Homo sapiens: one gene and its partner. The protein of the gene in region 1 purifies or fractionates together with the protein of each later gene. This does not show direct contact. Each region holds a gene or a part of one and is shown on either strand. Other genes may lie near its edges. The genes, in order: KCNH2 and RNF207.

The links.
Region 2: the proteins of KCNH2 (region 1) and RNF207 purify together in Homo sapiens (affinity purification with western blotting; 2 studies listed by BioGRID). This does not show direct contact.

Annotation. Positions count from the first base shown.
Region 1 is NC_000007.14:150,947,322-150,954,593, reverse strand, and holds part of KCNH2 (voltage-gated inwardly rectifying potassium channel KCNH2), read left to right. Parts: intron 1-1,740; coding exon 1,741-2,169; intron 2,170-2,758; coding exon 2,759-3,146; intron 3,147-3,473; coding exon 3,474-3,673; intron 3,674-4,173; coding exon 4,174-4,426; coding exon of another isoform or gene 4,427-4,695; exon of another isoform or gene 4,696-5,185; intron 5,186-5,544; coding exon 5,545-5,738; intron 5,739-6,050; coding exon 6,051-6,150; intron 6,151-6,715; coding exon 6,716-6,988; intron 6,989-7,079; coding exon 7,080-7,266; intron 7,267-7,272.
Region 2 is NC_000001.11:6,215,847-6,221,799, forward strand, and holds the end of RNF207 (RING finger protein 207), read left to right. Parts: intron 1-2,442; coding exon 2,443-2,523; intron 2,524-3,389; coding exon 3,390-3,561; 3' UTR 3,562-5,453; downstream 5,454-5,953. UniProt on the Homo sapiens protein: Plays a role in cardiac repolarization possibly by stabilizing membrane expression of the potassium channel KCNH2/HERG, or by assisting its synthesis, folding or export from the endoplasmic reticulum, in a heat shock protein-dependent manner.

The DNA of each region.
Region 1 (7,272 bases):
TAAGCAAGCCAGCTTCAGTATTCTATAGGACAACAGGCTGGGGGGACAGACCTGGCCCAAGGCCATAGGTGAGCTGGTGGCTGCAGAGCTGGGACTGGCCCCTGTCAGGTGTGCCCCATGCACGTGTGAGTTTGTACCCTGGGGCAGTGTTGCTCATGCTGTGTGCAGACTCAGGGGTAGGGTCACTGCTGTTAGGGGTGGTCCTGACACCTCCGCCCAGAGGCTTGACCTCTCAGGCACAGAGAAGAGCCCTGTCCAGGGGCAGCTACCTTCTTCTGCCCCCTTATCAGCAGGGGCCTGGCCAGTGTTTTCTTTTTTTTTTTTCAGTCCCCACTTGATCACTGAAGGGCCACCCACCCATGGGCATTTGCTCTCTGCCTTAAGGAGCTGGGCACTTAGACAGCAGACAGAGCAGAAATGGAGCCTGTGAGCCTGTCCATGTGTTCCCTCCCTGCCCTAGGCCTCAGCTGCTCCCGCAGCCCATCTGGTACCGCTGGAGGCCCTGTGTCCACCCCAGGGTGGTCAAATCTTTGACTATGACCCGTCTTGACTTCTAGTTATTTCCTCTAAGGAGATGTTCTCCCAGCAGCGCCATCTGTGAAGGTGTCTTGGGCAAGCCCAGCTTGAGTATGAAGGGGAGTCTTTGGGACTCATCAACTATGGCCTCCCCAACCCAAAAGCCTGAGGGTGTGGGGGCCTGGGAGTCAGTGCTTCTGGGAGCAGGGCCAGCACCTCTGGAATTCATGGGGGCTGGGCAAGGCCTTGGGTTCAGCTGGCTGCCCAGGGATGGCAGGGAGAGCTTGGGGAGGGGGCTTTTGGGTTGAGCTGCATGCCTGAGAGAGGATTCTAGGGAGACCCAGAAGCTTCTGGGACAGTGTGGAGAAGCTGGCCGGAGCTCTTCTTAGTTTGCCTTGGGAGCAAGAGGGACGTGCCTGCTGTCACCGGGTCCGGATGGCCAGCCTGCCTCTGTCTGATGACTGTGGAGGAGGCAGAGTGTGAGTGTGAGCTGGTACAGGGGCTGTGTGTGTCACTGCTGAGCAGTCCCTGTGTGCACGTCCCTCTGTATAAGTTGGGTGCCATCTCCTCCCAGCTGGGCTATGTCTTCTTTGTCCCTTTGTAAGAGGGTGGGAGGATGAGGACTGTGGGCTGTCCCGGACCTGTGTGGAGAGGGGGCTGAGGGAGCGAGGTGTGCGAGTGGAGGGTGGGAGTGTCTTGGTCTTTCTCCATCCTGGTTGCCTGGTGTCCTCGGGCCTGTGGCATGAAGAGGGGCTGGTAAGAACTGCAGTGACTACCAGTCAGTGGATTGGGGCTATGGCTCCTGGGGCCACTGCCCAGGTTGGGAGCTGTTGTCCTTGGAACCCTTTCCGGTCTGAGACTATGGCGTGTGTGGTTGGGTGTGTGGGCCAGCGTCTCAGGGCAGTCACAGTGGCAGGTCTGCATCTGCATTGCCGGCGGGGAGCAGCACTGGGTGTTCCTGCCGAGTGGCCTGAATCCACGTCTGCCGGGAAATGTTGGAACTGTTTGGAGCCAGTCCTGTGCTGTGTGGCATTTTGGGAACCATGATGCCCAAACCTGGGGGTGGCCATTTGCTGTGGTCGCTTGGCTGAGGGGTGGGCATTCTGATGGAAGCTTTTTTTGGCCTCCTCCTCATTCTGCTTGGCCCCGGCAGAGATGTCATCGCTCCTGCCCCCGAGGTCCCATGGCCTGCCTCACCCACACCTCCGCCTTCCCCGGGTGCAGGTCCTGTCCCTGGGCGCCGACGTGCTGCCTGAGTACAAGCTGCAGGCACCGCGCATCCACCGCTGGACCATCCTGCATTACAGCCCCTTCAAGGCCGTGTGGGACTGGCTCATCCTGCTGCTGGTCATCTACACGGCTGTCTTCACACCCTACTCGGCTGCCTTCCTGCTGAAGGAGACGGAAGAAGGCCCGCCTGCTACCGAGTGTGGCTACGCCTGCCAGCCGCTGGCTGTGGTGGACCTCATCGTGGACATCATGTTCATTGTGGACATCCTCATCAACTTCCGCACCACCTACGTCAATGCCAACGAGGAGGTGGTCAGCCACCCCGGCCGCATCGCCGTCCACTACTTCAAGGGCTGGTTCCTCATCGACATGGTGGCCGCCATCCCCTTCGACCTGCTCATCTTCGGCTCTGGCTCTGAGGAGGTGGGGTCAGCAAGGAGGCAGGTGGTGTAGGGAGAGGAGAGGCCAGGAATGTGGTGGGAGGTAGTGGGGTGGAGGGGGTGGCGAGGAGGACAGAGAAAAAGAGAGAGAGAGAGAAAGAGAGAAAGACAGTGGGAGAGAGACATGGTGGCAAGGCAGCTGCAGAGGCAAGGTGGGTACCCCAGCAAACCTATGCTCCTTCTCTCCACACAAGCTCCTCGCAGGTTGCAGAGGGCCACACAGGACACCTTTTTTTCTAATTCGTCCATCCCAAGGGGCCATTATTTTGTAGCGTCACCAAAGTGCCCTAGAAGCTGGTGGGAGTGGGCAGGCACCCTAGGGTGATCACTGCACCTGTCAGTGCCCCTGTTTCCTCATCCACACTATGGGGGCTGCCTCTGTCCCAAAGCTAGCACTAAGATTAATGAGACACCTGTGCTGGGCCCAGTGTGGGCTTCACCTCTTAGGAGGAGGGTCTAGGAAGTCTTTGGGGATCTGACCTCTGATGCTCGCTCTGAGGGCCGCAGCACCTCCCCTCCTCCCTTGCCCCCCTTGCCCCATCAACGGAATGTGCCCCTTCCCTGTCCCCCAGCTGATCGGGCTGCTGAAGACTGCGCGGCTGCTGCGGCTGGTGCGCGTGGCGCGGAAGCTGGATCGCTACTCAGAGTACGGCGCGGCCGTGCTGTTCTTGCTCATGTGCACCTTTGCGCTCATCGCGCACTGGCTAGCCTGCATCTGGTACGCCATCGGCAACATGGAGCAGCCACACATGGACTCACGCATCGGCTGGCTGCACAACCTGGGCGACCAGATAGGCAAACCCTACAACAGCAGCGGCCTGGGCGGCCCCTCCATCAAGGACAAGTATGTGACGGCGCTCTACTTCACCTTCAGCAGCCTCACCAGTGTGGGCTTCGGCAACGTCTCTCCCAACACCAACTCAGAGAAGATCTTCTCCATCTGCGTCATGCTCATTGGCTGTGAGTGTGCCCAGGGGCGGGCGGCGGGGAGAGCCCACGGTGGAGGAACCCAAGTTGGAGGAAACTGAGGCTGCTAGCCGGGCCAGAGTGAGGCCCTGGAACTTAGAGACTCCAGGGGCCACCATCGTGACATGGTTTGGGGGCTGGGTCACCAGGGCGGGGACTACTGAAGGGTGGGGTGTGCTGGAGCGCAGATGTACAAGGGCGTCTCGTGGGCATGTCGACGCTGAGACTGAGACACTGACCTGGTGCGGGGCCTGAGCAGGGTCCCTGTGGGTGGGTGGGGTCCCTGCAGAGGCTGACGGCCCCACGTGCCCACGCCCCCAGCCCTCATGTATGCTAGCATCTTCGGCAACGTGTCGGCCATCATCCAGCGGCTGTACTCGGGCACAGCCCGCTACCACACACAGATGCTGCGGGTGCGGGAGTTCATCCGCTTCCACCAGATCCCCAATCCCCTGCGCCAGCGCCTCGAGGAGTACTTCCAGCACGCCTGGTCCTACACCAACGGCATCGACATGAACGCGGTGAGGCCACCAGAGCGTGGCCAGTGGGTGGCAGGCTGGGAAGAGTGGGGTGGCAGAGGGGAACCTCTTGGCACAGCAAACAAGTCTCAGGCGGTCACAGTCAGTAGTAAGGACCCTGGAGGCACGTTGCCCCTTTTTGCCCATGAGGAAATGGAAGCCCTTGGAACCCCTTCCCTGGAGAGCTCCCCTTTTGGGGTGGGAGGTATATGTCACATAGGCGATGGGGTTAAATCCTTGTGACAGCCCAGGGCGGGAATGGTCTCTATGCCTTACAAATAAGAACATGGAGGTCTAGAGCCCAAGGGTGCTCGGCCAGGCATGGTGAAGCTGGAGTGGGGTCCCAGGTCCTTCCCAAGACACTGGGCCCCCTGATGCTTCCGAGATCTCCCAGGCCTGGAGGTTGAGATTTCTCTGACATGGAGGGGTGGGATGGTGGAGTAGAGTGTGGGTTGGGGGGTCCCAAGGGAGGGTGTGCTGAGCTGCCCCCACCCTGCCCCCAGGTGCTGAAGGGCTTCCCTGAGTGCCTGCAGGCTGACATCTGCCTGCACCTGAACCGCTCACTGCTGCAGCACTGCAAACCCTTCCGAGGGGCCACCAAGGGCTGCCTTCGGGCCCTGGCCATGAAGTTCAAGACCACACATGCACCGCCAGGGGACACACTGGTGCATGCTGGGGACCTGCTCACCGCCCTGTACTTCATCTCCCGGGGCTCCATCGAGATCCTGCGGGGCGACGTCGTCGTGGCCATCCTGGGTATGGGGTGGGGGGCGGGCACTGGACTGGAAATGCCCTCTGCAGCCTCAAGAGGTGCGAGCCTTCTGAATATGCAGTCACTGGGGCTGTGGACCTGGGACTGCCTGCAGGGTCACTGGGCTCCTTTAATTCACCTAAACTCAGGCCCTCCAAGCGGGGCCATGGAGAGGAGCCCCACGTGGGGTGAGGCTGCTGAACTCTGGGGTTCCCACATTCTCCTTCCCTTCAGGATCCGCCACAAACAGACACTTTTTGCTTCCTTAAAGTAGGATCAAATCTAGATCCTCTAGCCTGGGCAGTAGAGGAAGAAATGCTAGCCTGGAAGCTCGGCATTTGGTTTCACTAAGGGCCATGTGGTTCCCTGCAGCCTCATGCCTGGCCCCTTGACACATCCAAAGCAAAGGGAGTCCTGCCCCCTCCCCCCACTTCCTTTCTACCCTGCCTGTGCACAGTGGGTGGGTTGGTGTGTCTGGACACTGAGGACTTCCTCCCCCTTTGCCTGTCCTTCCCTCGGCCCTGTGTGCCTCAGGGCAGATATAGCAAGCTCTTTCGACCATAGTTGATGGTAGGACATTTTAGACTTTGTTTCTCAGCTCTGTACAAACACAAATACACACCCCCACAAAACTAAAATCAAAGTTTCACTACATAACACTGGGCCTTACTGCATGTGGTTCATTCTAGCATTTCTGTTCTGTGCTGTGCTAAGCTATACTACTGTATGTTCTTTCAGTAAAAAAAAAAAAAAAAAAAAAAAAATGCTGGTTTTGATTCACTACTGTGTTCTGATCTTTGGTTTGAAGAACATTGCTTATAAGGGTGCAGTGATTGGCTAAGAGGGTGTTTGGGACCTGGGGTTTGGGGTAGTCCTGCTGGCTGGGTCTCATTTGCTGGGAGACCCTGGGCTCCTGGCCCCTCTGGCACTGTCGTGCCTGCTGGGAGCTGAGGGAGGGTGGGCTGGCAGATTGCTTCCCCGGTTGTGTGGGTTGGGGGCCGGCTGGCAGGCGACCCAGCTGAGGGGACATGCTCTGCCCGGGGTGGGGATGCCGGGAGAAGGTGCCTGCTGCCTGGATGCCGCCCCCCGGGGCTGAGCTCCCTGTCCTCTCCATGGCCTCCAGGGAAGAATGACATCTTTGGGGAGCCTCTGAACCTGTATGCAAGGCCTGGCAAGTCGAACGGGGATGTGCGGGCCCTCACCTACTGTGACCTACACAAGATCCATCGGGACGACCTGCTGGAGGTGCTGGACATGTACCCTGAGTTCTCCGACCACTTCTGGTCCAGCCTGGAGATCACCTTCAACCTGCGAGATGTGAGTTGGCTGCCCTGAGCTGGACCCCATCCTCCTGCTTCCAGCTGTGTGGCTGCCCCTTTGCTGTGTGACATTGAATGTGATGCTTCTCTGTCTCAGTTTCCCTGTCTGTCAAATGGTATCATAGAGCAGCCTACAAAAGTCCCAAACTCAGTCTTTGCCTGGGGCAAAATCACATTGGGGGCAGGGAAGGGTTTTCCCAGAGCTGGGGCGCCCAGCCCTACTTTTTCTGTGTTAAGGAGGGAGCTTGGGGCCTGACCCCGGTGGGGCAGGAGAGCACTGAAAGGGCCCTGATACTGATTTTGGTTCCAGACCAACATGATCCCGGGCTCCCCCGGCAGTACGGAGTTAGAGGGTGGCTTCAGTCGGCAACGCAAGCGCAAGTTGTCCTTCCGCAGGCGCACGGACAAGGGTGAGGCGGGGGAGGGGAGGAAGGGGGAGGGCGGGGACAAGGTGAGGCTGGGAGCTGGAAGGCGGGGTGGGCCGTGTCTGCTTTACCCAGGCCTCAGACCTTCCCATCCCTTCCTCCAGTGTGCCCACTCCACACCCCAGCTGTCCAGATGCTGCCCATCTTTCAGGGCCCCTGCAGCTGTCACCTCCTCCAGGAAGCCCTCTTCCACCCTCCAGGGCAAGCCTAGGCTTTTTGGACTTCACAGGGCTGGGGTCTCTGTGAGCACTGAGGAGGAAAGAACATAGAACAAAGGAGGGCCAGGGAGCCAACGATGGGGCTGAGGCCCCGCAGTCCCAGAGATCCGCCAACCCCTGAAGCACCATTGCCAGTGCTTGGGCAGTCAGGGGGTCCTGGGAGTTCTTGGTCGGCTTGACAGTGGGTGCAAGATAGCAGAAGAAGCGACTGGGGACAAACCAGGGCTTCCTGCCCAGTCCTCTCTCGGGCTCGCTCCTGTCCCCTCCTCCACCCTCGCCCCCTCCTCTCTGTTCTCCTCCCCTCTCTGAGGCCCATTCTCTGTTTCCCACAGACACGGAGCAGCCAGGGGAGGTGTCGGCCTTGGGGCCGGGCCGGGCGGGGGCAGGGCCGAGTAGCCGGGGCCGGCCGGGGGGGCCGTGGGGGGAGAGCCCGTCCAGTGGCCCCTCCAGCCCTGAGAGCAGTGAGGATGAGGGCCCAGGCCGCAGCTCCAGCCCCCTCCGCCTGGTGCCCTTCTCCAGCCCCAGGCCCCCCGGAGAGCCGCCGGGTGGGGAGCCCCTGATGGAGGACTGCGAGAAGAGCAGCGACACTTGCAACCCCCTGTCAGGTATCCCGGGCGACGGGCGGGCGAGGGAGGACCGGGCGTGGCAGCGGTGGTGCGTCTACCCCGCTCACCCAGCTCTGCTCTCTGGCTGCAGGCGCCTTCTCAGGAGTGTCCAACATTTTCAGCTTCTGGGGGGACAGTCGGGGCCGCCAGTACCAGGAGCTCCCTCGATGCCCCGCCCCCACCCCCAGCCTCCTCAACATCCCCCTCTCCAGCCCGGGTCGGCGGCCCCGGGGCGACGTGGAGAGCAGGCTGGATGCCCTCCAGCGCCAGCTCAACAGGTGAGG
Region 2 (5,953 bases), on another chromosome or scaffold:
CTTCCAGGCTGAAGGTTTTTCTCAGATGTCAGGTCACCCTTGAGTATCTGCTCATATTAGGAGTGGGGCAGGGCTGGAGCCATGAGGCAGATCGGAAGCTCTGAGCACAAGGGTGGTACTTCCTTGGAGGAGATCAGGGTGGGTGGGCTCTTGCTTTTATGGAATGCCCCGAGGTCAGTTTTAGATCCCTTTCCAGTCCTTCCTGGGAAGCCTGTCTGTGGAGCATCTGTATGCACACTGGGTTTTCTGGTTTCAGTACATTTCTTGTCTGTGTGTGGTGACCTCTCAGAACCCCTCAGACTTCGGCTGCAGTGGGAGAGGACCAGTTGCTGAGTGGCAGGGATCTTGGCAGTCACCTGGAAGACTGGAAGGGGACATGAAGGGGGCTTCTGGGTGGGGACAACGTCCTGGGTGCTACCCACACAGACTTGTTCACACCATGAATGTATCAAGCCATACTCTACCTCTGCAGAAATAAATTGAGGCTGGAGCCTAGCTCCTGGAGGTTTCGGGCAAGGTGGGGCCGGCTCTGCTCCTCTTCAGAGCAGCCACTTTGTGGATGTCTGCAGTTGCTCCCTCAACCCACTTCACTCCAGGTCTGCGAGTCCACTCATCCACTGAGTCTGCTCTTGCTCCAGTCGCAGCGAGCCCTCCCGTAGGTCCAGGCCTCCTCCCTTGGCCTCTCAGCAGCACTCGTGAGCATCGCCATATTCATCTTTTTTTTTTTTTTTTGAGACCGAGTCTCGCTCTGTCGCCCAAACTGGAGTGCAGTGGCGTGATCTCGGCTCACTGCAACCTCCGCCTCCCGGGTTCAAGCGATTCTCCTGTCTCGCCCTCACGAGTAGCTGGGACTACAGGCGTGTGCCACCACACCCGGCTGATTTTTTTTTTTTTTTAATTTTTAGTAGAGACGGGGTTTCACCATGTTAGCCAGGATGGTCTCGATCTCCTGACCTCGTGATCCGCCAGCCTCGGCCTCCCAAAGTGCTGGGATTACAGGCGTGAGCCACTGCGCCGGGCTTTTTTTGTTCGTTTGTTTTAAAGACAGGGTCTTTCCCTGTTGTCCAGGCTGGAGTGCAGTGGCTCAATCACAGCTCACTGCAGCCGCGATCTCCCAGGCTCAATCAATCCTCCCACCTCAGCCTCCTGGGTAGCTGTGACTACAGGCATGTGCCACCATGCCCGGCTAATTTTTATAGTTTTGGTAGAGATGGGGTTGTGCTATGTTGCCAAAGATGGTCTCCAACTCCTGGGCTAAGTGATCCTCCCACCTCAGCCTTCCAAAATGCTGGGATTATAGACGTGACCGTGCCTAGCCATGTTAGTCTTCAGTACACCTTCTCTTTGCTGACAGCCCCGCGCTCCCATGCTCCTGCCAGCCTCTCCAGCCGTTCCTTCCTGGTCTCTGGCTGGCTCTGCCTCCTCAGCTCAGTGCCCAGATATGTTTTTCCCCAGGGCTCAGCCTTAGGCATTCTCCACAGCCTACGCTCACTCCTTGGGCGACCTCATTCAGTCCCTGGCTTTAAGACCCCATCATGACGCAGACCCCCAGCTCCCGCTCCAGCACAGTGCTTACCAGAGCTCCAGACTCATCTCCCACTGCCCCCTTCCTGGGCAGCCCTACCTGGATGTCTACAGGCACCGCGAGTTCAGCAGTGGCCAGAATGCTTGACGTCCTCCCGCAGACATGCTATTCCCATCTCCCCATCTCAGTGAATAGCACCACATTCACTCAGGTGAAAAGCCTGGGAGAAAGCCTGGATTCCTTTCACCCACTTCATTTCCAACCCACCCCCAAGTCCTGCTGGCTCTACTGTTCCTGCCTCAATCCACCCGCTTTGGTCTCTATTGCTCCCCTGAATCCAGATCATCATGGCCAACCCTCCTACCCCTCCAGCCGCCATGAAGCCAGGAGTCCTTTAGAAGTCTATGATTCCCATCACCGCGGGGCTGGACAGCTCTCTTGGGGACCTTCCCTGTGCACCTGTGACCGTGTCTGCCCCTCATAACACCCTAGTCACAATGCCCTTTCAGTTCCCCAAAAAAGCTAGACTGGTCCCACTTCTGGGCCTCTGCCTGGAGTATTCACAGACCCTCAGTCGGGCCCCAGCTTGGATGAGTGTCAGCAGAGGCCCTCCCCACTCCACCTGGATTAAAGCAGGTCTGCCTGGCGCCCTGCACCACACACCCTTCCCTCCCTCAGCGTGTCTGGCCCGACCAGCACGCAGCTTCCATGATGGCAGGGCCTGGCCTCTCCTGCACGCCATGCAGGCCTGGCCCTTGCCAACCACTGGACCTTAGTAAATATTTGAGGAGCAAAAGAATGAAACGCTAGGTGGGTGCATGAGTGGTGGCAGAGTCTGGTTCTGAGGTTTCTGAGCTTAAGGCCGTGCAGCAGCTGGCTCTGCTCCCTTGAGATTCTGGTGCCCACTCCCTTGCCAGGTTTCAGGCACCCGTGGATGAGCAGTCAGAGAGTCTACAGAACACGCACGACGACAGCAGGAACAACGCGGCCTCAGCCAGGTAAAGCAAGTCTCTCCACTGGAGAGTGTGCACGCGATGTGGCTTCTGAGGCCAACAGGACGACAAAGGAAACTCCAGGCTTTTCCCCTTTGGCGCCAGCTCTGGGGCCCTGGCTGGGCCTCTTTGTAAAACAAGGGGTCAGAGAGGCTCTCAGCCCAGATGAGTAACTTATAAGTGACCTCATAGATAAAACAGGTGTTCCTTTGATAGACAGAACCCCATTTTACCATTATAAACAGCCATGGCTGCTGCCTGCATCCACTTTCACCACTGGGAGCTGCACGTGCTTATGCTAGGGGACTCGGGTCACTGAAATGAGAAAGTGACCGAGGACTGTTCCCCAGAGCCAGCGCATGCGCCCCAGTACCTGCCAGAGGAAGACGGCTGTGCATTAACACCTACGACACAGTCACAGGCTGATCTTTGTGTATTTTGCTTTCAGGAAAACATAGTCACAGGGCAGAGGACAGCACTGTAGAATGAGAACCAGAAGAGCCTAGGGGTGTGCAGAGGGTTGCTGAAGTGGCCAGAGTCACAGCGCGGCTGGTGACAGAGCAGAGTCTGGCCCCAGCCTCCCCTGCACAGCCGCCATTTATTAGCTCAGATGCTTCCAAATTCAAAATGCAGTGTCACCAGAAACCGCTGACACAGGCTGATGGTTCAGCAACTCACAGCCATCCCCTGGGGATGGGCTCCTACTCAGAAGTAGACAAGGTCCTTTTGGAGACAGAGCCTTCCTGGTTCTCACTCACTGAGGCCTTCCAGGAAGACGTTCCATTCTGAGTGCTTTGGCCCAAGTGGATTTTAGTGCAGGGATATGGTGAAATGGGGGAGCGGGCTGGGCTTACATGAGGCTGTCCCTTTAGGAATAATCCAGGAAGTGTCCCGGAAAAGAGAGAGAAGACATCAGAGCCTAAAGGAAACAGCTGGGCTCCGAACGGCCTCTCAGAAGAGCCTCTACTGAAAAATATGGATCATCACAGATCCAAACAGAAAAATGGGGGCGATGTCCCCACATGGAGGGAACACCCGACTTAGCAAATGGGACCGGTCCCCAGGGTCAGGCTCTTAGAGCAGGCACAAGACTGGGACACTGGACAGAAGGTTGTTCCCATGATGGTTTTTTTTATTTTTTATTTTTGAGATGGAGTTTCGCTCTGTTGCCCAGGCTGGAGTGTAATGGTGCAATCTCGGCTCACTGCAACCTCTGCCTCCTGGGTTCAAGCGATTCTCCTGCCTCAGCCTCCCGAGTAGCTGGGATTACAGGCGCCTGACACCACGCCCCGCTAATTTTTTGTATTTTTAGTAGAGATGGGGTTTCACCATGTTGGCCAGGCTGGTCTCAAACGCCAGACCTCAGGTGATCCACCTGCCTCAGCCTCCCAAAGTGCTGAGATTACAGGGGTGAGTCACCGCGCCTGGCCAATGTTGTTGTTGTTTTTAAGACAGAATTTCACTCTTTGTTGCCCAGGCTGGAGTGCAATGGCGCAATCTCTGGCTCACCGCAACCTCCGCCTCCCAGGTTCAAGCGATTCTCCTACCTCAGCCCCCAGAGTAGCTGGGATTACAGGCATGTACCATCACACCCGGCTAATTTTTTGTATTTTAAGTAGAGAGGGGGTTTCTCCATGTTGGTCAGGCTGGCCTCGAACTCCCAACCTCAGGTGATCCGCCCACCTCGGCCTCCCAAAATGCTGGGATTACAGGGGTAAGCCACTGTGCCCGGCCGGTTATTTCTTTAAAAGGTAATCATTTGTCAAGAGTAAAACCCAGAAGCTCTGACAGGCCATAATTTCAGATCCTTTGGCTTGGGCAGTTTTGATTTTCCCCGTGTTTGCATGGCATGAAGTCTTCGTCCTTGTCACAGTAGCTTGGGATGACTCCCAGTCCACATGGAAAACATCAGGGAGTGACAATCCAGCAAGAAATCCCTCGCTAGTTCCACACCTACGCACCGAGCGTCGGTGTGCCAGGCCCTGTGCTGGGCAGAGTGTGGTATGTCAGGGTGTGCCGGTTTTAGGTAACAAGACTCCACCACTGAGTGGCACCTGCCCTATTGCAAAGGAATCCAGTTCCTCCGGAATAACAGTCCCACTGTTAACCTGGTGCTACTGGGAAGTTCCACACAGTAATCTGAGCAGTGACTCATGGAAGGATGAGGAACGTTTGCTCCAGCTTCTCTCCCTTTCCAGCAAGGGCAGAGCTCCTAAAGCCAGGGGTTAGCACCTGGCCAGCTTATGTGGCAGATGGTCTCAGTTACAACTTCGCTGCTTTCCCAAACTCCTGCAGCCCTCCTGAGTCCGACTTCCGTTGATAGCAAGGCACTGGGTGGCAGCAACCTTTTTTCTAGTAGTTTTTTCCCAGCAGTTTTCCATTTCTCCACAGTATCCTTTTCATTTAGAGGAGCTTAATAAATGCTTTTTAAAAAGTAACCCACGTGACGTAAAATTTTACAAGTTTTTGTGGCAAAATGATGCCCAGATAGTCACATTTAAGCAAATATTCAGCTTGATTCAGTGATTAACAGCAAATGGGTCTACGTGCTAACATGGCAGCACATTCAACACATAACACATCACTCACATTGACGTCCACTGTCCCTGCACCTGCTACTTCAGGGGCACTGAGGCTCCTGTTCCAAGGCCTTACAAACCTATGTGGTGGCCTGCAGGGCAAAAGGAATTATCATTACAACTGGTTAGAGGTAGGAATTCAGAAAGAAATTGAGGAGGCCAAACACACGTCGTTTGAGGCTAAAGGCTTAAGACGCTTCTTACCCAAGAGTGACCTCAGAGTTTCACATCCCAGACAATCACACTGTGGTTGAGTGAAATCAAGTGCAGTTTTATTTAAGAACTGGAAAGAATAATCAGTATCTGTGAAAGAAAATCCAATTTAGAATATTTAAATAAACATTTATGTAAAAAGAAGAGTAGAATAATTACTCCGTTCAGTTCCTCTCCTTGCAATGGGATAGGCTGCCTCTGCTGCAGATGGCTGGGTCTTCCAAACCCATGACAAGTGCCACGGCCTCTGCAGCAGTGGCCCAGAGAGTAGGCACTTCCCAGCATGACAGAGAGGCCGAGGCCTTCTAACCTTGCCAAACCACTACAAAAGCAAACTAGGGTGGGCAAGCCCAACTACCTAAGGCAGGAAGAAAGTGCAGTGAAGGGACAGTGGTGTGCTGTGCGTATCGTGGGGGTACTCCTAAGCAGCTAGCTGTTGGCGAGATCTTACAAAGCCTGATCGGCTAACGCAGCTTCCTGGTTTAGGAACATTTTCCCCGGTCGTATCAATCCCCCAGGTTGGTAAATGAACAGAAGGGATGAATAAAGCCTACTTTTTAGGCTCAAGGAGCAGCTCGTGAAGGGGTGGCAGGTGCGCTGCTGCCTTGTTTTCTGTCCTGCTAAGAGGCTCACCCCGCGACCTC